Regions from separate parts of the Homo sapiens genome. Here region 2 is linked to region 1. Evidence: fine-mapped expression QTL. A gene starts in region 1. The other region holds a variant in brackets. All regions are shown on one strand. Distances are between the middles of the regions.

Region 1 (4,356 bases):
TGGGGGCCCACTGTGCATTATAAGGGCCACTGCAAGGGAGATGGGGAGCCAAGGAAGGGTACTGAGCAGGGGAGTCACATAATCTGACTTGTGTTTTAACAGGATCGCTCAGACTGCTTTGTTGAGAAAGCACTGTGAGAGCTAAGGGTAGAAGCCGAGAAACCAGTGTTGGTGCTATTGCCATACTCCAGGCAAGAGATAATCAACCGCTTAGACCAGAGTAGTAGCATTCTTTAACACATTAAAAAAATATGTAGAGGCTGGGCATGGTGGCTCATCCTTAATCCCTTAACCCCAGCACTTTGGGAGGTGGAGGTGGGCAGATTATTTAAGCTCAGGAGTTCAAGATCAGCCTGGGAAACATGACAAAACCCCATCTCTATAAAAAATACAAAAATTAGCTGGCCGTGGTGGCTGGTGCCTATGGTCCCAGCTCCTCTGGAGGCTGAGGTAGGAAGATCACTTGAGCCCAGGAGGTGGAAGTTGCAGTGAGCCAAGATTGCACCACTGCACTGCAGCCTGGGACAGAGCAAGACCCTGTCTCGAGAAAAAAAAATTTTATATATATATATATATATGAAGAGAGACAGAGAGAGAGAAAATACAATATAAAGGGAGACAGAAATGTCCTCTCCCAGTCTATGTGCTCCTTGCTGCTAATATTGTGTAGAAGCCAGAAATGGAAAGAGCGATGGTCCTTTTCATTTACATTTTCTCCCGTCTTCTACCACCCTTAATTCTGTACTATTAAAGTTAATTCTTGAGCTGTAAGACAGTGATCTATGAACATATATATTTCTTTTCCCTCTGGCTTGCAGAGCTCCTTATCCATTGATACTGCACGCAAGCAAGAGGAAATGTTAGGAACAACTCAGTATGATATCTTCTTTCAGGATAAAGTTACCAAATTAAACAAATGGTAAATGACCATGTTTTCCTTTTGGTTTTAATAACCAGTGCTTAATCCAAGAAACCTGCTTGCTTAGATATTTTTGTTCAATGATCATCTGTTATCCCTACTGAAAGGTGTAGCTGTGGATGACTAGGTAGACTCCGGAGGGATAAAATGAAGGAGGGAGCAGGTGGTGAATGTGAAGAGTGGAGAGGAGAGGAGGAGAATTGGGGAGTAAAAGATACACAGATGTGAGCTCCGGTGATCTGTAGCAATGCACAAAAGAACAGAGAAAGAGCCAGTGCTTCTCCAGCCACATTTGTAGACTCCACCAGCCTTGCAGCTGTGCTTTCTCGTCCGGAGAAGTCTTGATTGACCCAGGGTTCAGACAATTCTGGTATCACCTCTGGGGAGAAAGACTGGAAAGTCAGAGCTTACTTATTCAGAAGCTAGATGCTTGTGTAAAGAAAATTCTACTGCACGTAAGCACAGGTTATTGAAATTCTACAAACTGTAGTGAGACATAATGTTACAGCATCAAACACACACACATATTACTTAGTGCATGCTCCCTGCTTGCTTGCGTTCTCTCTCTCTTTCACGTGGGCACACACACACGCACACCAATACACCGGCCATTCCCTCATCGTTCTGTGCTGGCATTCTGGCATAGAATCATCCTTCAATTGACTGGAGTGATCACCTTAACTCCGTTAAATCATTACGTAGTATATGTAATTGTTATTAACCTCATCGTAAAAGGTGATGCTATGATTCATGTTGCAGACATTATTAACTGGAACAAATAGGCGACACTATTTGGTTCGTTCTTATTTTGCAAATGGGCGAATTGAGGCCCGCAGCCATAAGTGATTTGACGAAGACCACAGACTGATTCGGAGACAGGAGGCAAAATGACACAGGAATGATTCACAAGCCTCTGTCACAAGGGAGTTTTCTGCTTGTAACTTATCAGGGAGGCAAATTTTCTGAAATCATTTTTTCAAATCTCAGATCCATGACTTTTCTGTTGAGCAATGCTGCTGCTTCCTCTCAGCCTCCGCCCACCACCACCACTACCATGTTTAGATGTTGTATTTCATTTAAGGATTTTTCAGTTTTCCTTCCTCGCTGAAAAAGTGATACTGAAATACACTACGAAAACTTTTGTCCTCCCTCCAAAACAAATATCTTACCAGTCACAACTCCACCATTATAACAGAATTATCTTCATTTTTTACATAGTCTTTCTTTTTTGCCACAGTGACTTGTTTTTACATAGCTGAAGTCATAATGAGTAGGCTAGTTTATATTCAGACAATTTTATTTACCAATTATAAGGCGTTTTCCATTCTGTGCAATCATCATTTCAAGTATGTTTCTGATTAATACTTGTTAATTTTGGAATGTAATGTACATATATGGAAACTACTGAAGTTATTGAAGTTGTATGTACATACATTGAAACTACTGAAGAAAATCAGCAATAATTCAACCACCCTCGGAATAACTGATGGATTTCCCCAGCCTTCACATATATGCTTCTTATTTTAAGAATTGAAACTAATGCTGCATGAACAGGTTTCTATTTGCTCCCTGCCCCCTTCGTTTAAAAACAAGGTGGAGACTAAAGGCTCTCAGCCTCAGTTTCTCCATATGCAAAATATCAGGATTAAATAAGTCATGCTAAGGGCTGGAACAAAGTGAGGGCTCTGCAGCGTGTACGCCGGGCACTCAGCCGTGGATGGCAGGGGACGGCGTTCTGTCCCCGGGACGGAGCGCAGGCCTGTAATTGTCCCTCCCGCCTAGGCCATCACTTTCAGGCTTGGGTACGCGCCGCCGTCTGCTCCCCTGGGGCCGCCAGGGGGCGCTGTGGCCCCGGTGCGCGGCAGCCGCGCGACACGGGCCCTCCCTCGGAGTCTTCGGCACCGCCCTGTCCCAGCCTCCTTTGCGGGTAAACAGACATGGCCGGCGAAGGAGATCAGCAGGACGCTGCGCACAACATGGGCAACCACCTGCCGCTCCTGCCTGGTAACCGCCCGGAGTAGTTCCCTGTAGTCGGGAGTGGGGCGAGGCTCGGAGCCGCTAGCGGTGCAGCTGGGCCTGGGAGGCGGGCGTGGGGGCGCCAAGCCTGGCGAGCCAGCCCAGCAGGGCCGCACCGGAAAGCTGCTTCACGTCGGCCCTCGGCCAGCGATGGAGTCGCGGCGCTTTCTTCGCTGCTCTGTTGCCCCGAGCCGTGAGCCAGGGTGTCGGGGGGAGCATTTGCTATTAAGAACAGGAAACCCATCCTCTCCATCCTCCTTGTGTTCTGAGTTTAGCTCCTAGGAAATGCTCTGAAACTAGAGGACCGGGTCAGATTCACAGCGGTTACTTTTGCTGGTCTCCTTCCTTTTAATAAGAGTGACAGCTAACATGTACTAAGCACTTACCATGTTACGAGCCGTGCAGTTAACGCTTTGCATGCATGTCGCCTTTTAATCCTTCCCACATCAGTTTTCAGTTTCCGATTTGATAAGCGAGTATTGGATTTGCAGATTAGTTCAATGACTTGCCCAAGGTCACACAGCAGAGTCAGGATTCCAACCCGGGTGTGTCTGTCATTATATCTCTAAACCACTTCTCTGTTTTGTTTTTCTTACTATCGGTCTTTCTCAGGCATGTACGATTATGCTTAATCAGAGATACTTAGTTTTTCTTTTTCCTGTATGTTGTGTGAAATGTTTAGACTTTGGCCTTGTGTTGAAATACTGAACAAAAAAAAAAATGCATGGAATATTGCATAAACTTTTCATGGAATGCCTTTCAAGAGATGCTTTCCAAAAGGTGTATCATCCAAACTTGAAAGTATTACTTGAGTCCCTTCGTTATATGACAAGTATGTTAGGTGTTGTGGAGATGAAACGAGAGGTAATACACAATCTGATAATTGAGGTTTACTGTCTAGGCGGGGCTGCTGAGAATATAACTAAACGTAAATCAACTGCAGAGGCGGTTGATTTAGGGCCAGATAAATGAATGCTGTTGTGGCTCTTCAGAGGCAGAGGTTGTTTAAGGGTCAGAGGATTTGGGAAAAAGCCTTTCAGGTAGATCAGGAGACATCTAAAAGCACATATTTAGGATATGGTTGTGGGACATAAGGCCTAGGAGGTATATTGGGTCTAAGTTGCTGGGAAACTGGCATCTCTTGCCAGTGGGTTTGGGTTTTTCCTGTGGATTGCCAAGAAACAGTTTTAGGTTTCAGGTAATTGCCTAAAGAAATCTATGCTTGGAAGATTAATTTGTCCACTGGTAGCAGCATGGATTAAAAGAGGAAGAGACTGAGTGCGTGCCCACCATATAGGAGAGAACTTTTCTGTAAAAATAAACCATAGTCACTGGTTGTTCTCGAAGCCATTCTAGCTGAGTTGACACAAGGGTAAGTGTGCCAGCCTTTGATGGAAAGCTGAGCTATTTTTTCAGAGACA
Region 2 (4,406 bases), 890 kb after region 1:
GGAACATCCAAAATGTCCATCAACAAAAGAATGGAATAAATTGTGATATATTCATCTGTAGAATACTATCTGGAATTGAAAAAGATCACACTACTGATAGATAGAATAATATGTATGAATATTAAAATGTTGAGCAAAAGAAGGCAAAGAAGAGTATATACTATATGCTTCTATTTATAAGAAATTCTAGACCAAGTAAAAATACTCTAAGGGATAAAAAGTCAGAAAAGTGGTAACCTGGGGTACAGTGGAGACTACTACCTAAAAGGGACATAAAAGAACTTTGGAAAATTATGAAGATATACTATATCTTTATCTGAGTAGTAGTTAATGGCTGTCAAAAAGTTAACACATTGTACACTTCAGATATGAGCATTTTATTGCATACAAATAATCCTGAAAAATTCAATAAAACAAAGCAAAACAAAGTTGTCATATTCAACTTATTCAAGTTAACAAATATCAGTGGGGTACCTAATACATGTTTGGTACTGTGTTTCAATAAATCCTAAGTGACAATTATTCACTAAGAGATAGAAGAAAAGCCAATGCCCTTGTGAAGTTCATTCTGTTGTGCAAGAGACAAGCTTATAAATATAACACTATTAGAGAAGAATCCAGAAGAAAAATAATCTGTTGCCAAAATGTGTGGGACAGATAAGTGCCGTAGAAGTGACAATACAAGTACCACTTTTTACAAATGAGACAGGGAATGGGCATGAGACATTTTAACGGTTAATTATGTGATGGATTAATATTTTACTTACTGTAAAAAATGGCATTAAAATATTATAGTTCGCCAGGCGCGGTGGCTCACGCCTGTAATCCCAGCACTTTGGGAGGCTGAGGCGGGTGGATCACCTGAGGTCAGGAGTTCGAGACCAGCCTGACCAATATGGTGAAACCCCATCTCCACTAATAACACAAAAAAATTAGTCATGCATGGTAGCGAATGCCTGTAATCCCAGCTACTCGGGAGGCAGAGGCAGGAAAATCTCTTCAACCTGGGAGGCGGAGGTTGCAGTGAGCCAAGATCCTGCCATCGCCCTCTAGCCTGCACAACAGAGCGAGACTCTATCTCAAAAAAAGTTAATAAATAAAATAAAATAAAATAAAATATTATAGTTCAAAACAAATCAACACAAATAAGCCACTTAAAACTCAGAAGAATTTTAGGGATCCCCAAATACTTTATCATAAGGACTTCAGTGAATTAATCCTTTAATAATTTTATATTAGCATTATCCTATGGTGAAATATAGAATAAACAGTAGGGAAAAAAGCTAGCATGCATTCAATAATCATCAATCATAATATCATAATTAAAAATTTATTTTGAGTTCTTTTAACATACTTTATTTTCTTCAAATATCTAAAGGGGGAGAGGATAGGAACCAGTTGTAACTAGGGTGACTCTGCTAGTCTAATTGCATGTCAAAATTTATTTGTCATTTTTAAATGATGCTGAAAATTTGGAGATAAATTCTTGAATAGTGAGAATTCTCCTATATGGGTTGGAATTCTCCATAAGATTCATTTGAACAAGAATGTATTGAATGCCTAGGGTCTGTACTTAGCACTGGGGACGAACACAGCCTTTATATACTCCCTGATACCAAAAAAATTATAATGTAGTTAGGTAGGCTGGAAGGGTAAAAAAATTTACATAAATCCAAGCAAAGAAATAAGAATAACAAAAATATCATCACATCTGCAGTGATGGGGTCTAGATTCTCAGTGGCCATGGACAGATGCAGTTATTCAAAAGTACAGCTACAGTATAAGTCAGGACCAAAGTGACCAAGACACTCAATATATATAGTTGGATTCTTTTAAAAAATGCAGCTGAATATGAGATGGTGATTTAATTTATAATGTAAGGCTTTCACATGTCATTTTAAAAAATCCTATAGTGTCGATTTTTCTTTGAAAAACGTGGTCATTTTAGCCACAATAAACTCTACAAAGTTCAGACCCGAAGTTTCTGTTGAAAGGGAAATAAGTTTTTTCCTCTCATCAGATTTAAGTCAGAAAATTTTAATGGTTATCTCTAGTTAGCATCCAAAGACCCCAGCAGTATATACTCAATGATCTCACACTCTGCTTAAACTCTTCAATGGCTTCCTGTTCCCTCGCAACAATACACAAATCTTTAAGATGCTCTAAGACCCTGTGTAGCCTGGCTTACCTGTAGTTCTTTCATCATGTCTCTGATTTGACAATTGTGATTTCATTCAAACTGAACTTTTTCATTCTCTTGAATGGACCCCTCATTTTTTCACTTATTTAGGTCTCACGTATCGTCTTTCTCTCTTTTTATCCAGCCTTTCTTGCTTCACCATCATCGTTAATGATTTTCCCCTGTAACTGCAACCACAGACCTTACTAAGTACTTCATTAACAGGTGTTGTACGTATAAATGTAAAGATATG[A/C]ATGTTCCAATGTCAATTCCATAAAACACAATTAGTGCAGTGTTATTCAAGTCATAACATACCAAGACAAGCCTGATCAGTTTCTCATAATCACTCTGGATATTTCCAGGATCCACCTGGCTTCCCCCTTCCTGCATTATGGCCCGGAAGCTCTCTTTGAAATGTAAGCCAGGACAATTCTAACGCTTGTCTCTTTCATTGCCCCTGTTTCTGGGATCAATGCTCTGTGCTGCTTGTTATTGTTTACTGTCTAGAAACTGTTGTTTCATTTTTTCCCACATTTTTGTTGTTATTTTGGGCAGAAAGATAAATCCAGTCCCTGTTACTCCATCGTGTTAGGTGTAGAAAAGTTTCAAAATCTAAGAAAATGACTGGCTCAGAGAAGGTACACCCTAAGATGGGAATTTTAATCTAAAAAATACTAAATACTAATAATGAACATTCTGTAACCCTGAAAACTATGCCTCCAAGTTTCCGAGAGGTAGTATGAAATTTTCAATCATCAAATGTCTAGAAAGAACTACTTCATGATAAAATATTTTTAATGTTATTCAGCCACTATCGTAATAACTTACACATCAATGACTATTCTTAGAAATGCAGTAAGTGGAATAAAATTAGAAAGAGATCAAAACCAGATATAGTTGCAAGAAGCCTCTAAATTGTTTTATAGTTCATTCTTCATTATCTTATTTTCTCTTATATTTATACGGGGAAGCGGGAAGCACTGAAGGTTGAAAGGTAGCTGCCCAAAGTAAAAAAAAATCCCAAGTTGATTTGAAGGGACAGGAAGACCATCTTATGTAATCCAATCTTCCTCCCCTGAACTGTGTTCAATAAATGCTGACTTAAAGCAGATGTCTTCAGCCCTTCTCATATATTAACAGCAACGTTTAATGAACATCATAAATGTGCCATGCACCATGATATGGTCTTCACATATACTATCCATTTAATCCTTATAGAAACTCTGTCTTATAGATACTATTATTATCGCCATTTCACAGATGAGAAAACTAAACATACAAAAGTTTTGAAATCTTCCTAGGATATCTCTATGCAATGAGAAACATAGGTCAAATCCATGCTCCTCTTTCTGTGCAAAAGTCCCAAATGACATTTAGTCTCTCTGGGTTTTAGGGGACCTGGTCTCTCATCCTTCCCTGTACCTATCACTCCATCATTCATGTTAGAAATCATCTAAAATATTTCTTTTTAAAATAATATTTCTAAAATATTTCTAAAGCGAATGTATGATAGGCATTGGGAAGCTGTTTAAAACTATAAATGTATAGCCTTATAAGAAATGTACTTTTGAGTCTATACTAAGCAAGCACTTCTCAAGAATATAGGGCCAAGCTCCATTCACTGGGTATGGGATTGGATTATTTTTAAGGCCTTTCAGACCTTAAGATGGTTCTGTGTACCTTGAATTTCGCTACCTATCTTTAATACTCATATAAAATGCCTTCATTTAACTCTATTCCTTGGAATTTCTTGCTTTTCACCACCTTCCCTATGTCACTGAATGAACATTCAAGACAAACATCCCTCTTTTCTCTAATTTATATCTTTATTTAACATTTTCCAGCCAACATTTTCCTACCAACAAAACAAAACTTGTATTGTTTTCTTTCATTCTGATTTCCAGATTCATATTCTTCTTACAATCCTTCCACTTATTTGATAACATACATTTTCATTATATTTTGTTTTATACTTAGTATGGCTTTATCTATTCCATTTGAAATGGAAACTGTTTAAGGATCTCAGTGTGTTGCAATCTTTCCCAATTTCTTTGATCTGTTTTTATAGCAACTTCCTCTTGCTATAGTTTGGATGTCTGTCTCCTCAAAATCTCATGTTGAATCCGATCCTCAATGTTGCAAGGAGGGGCCTAATGGGAAGTATTTGGGTCAGGGAGATAGATACCTCAAAAATGGCTTAGTGCCATTTTCATGGTAGTGAGTGAGT

What was found. PIP is the estimated chance that this variant, and not a neighbour inherited with it, causes the effect.
Region 2: its variant is the best candidate, but not a certain one, in a credible set for the expression of CRBN in pituitary (GTEx, PIP 0.71).

What each region holds. Positions count from the first base shown.
Region 1 is chr3:3,178,188-3,182,543 of GRCh38, reverse strand. CRBN (cereblon) reads left to right here and starts at 2,853. Exons shown (of 11, transcript NM_016302.4): 1 at 2,853-2,923. The coding sequence starts at 2,857. RefSeq lists a silencer at 2,620-2,789.
Region 2 is chr3:2,288,427-2,292,832 of GRCh38, reverse strand. The region is part of intron 2 of CNTN4 (contactin 4); the gene reads right to left. Among named protein-coding and RNA genes, the nearest start is that of CNTN4-AS2, 150 kb to the right of the region's middle. The variant A/C (reference allele first, on the strand shown) is at 2,433.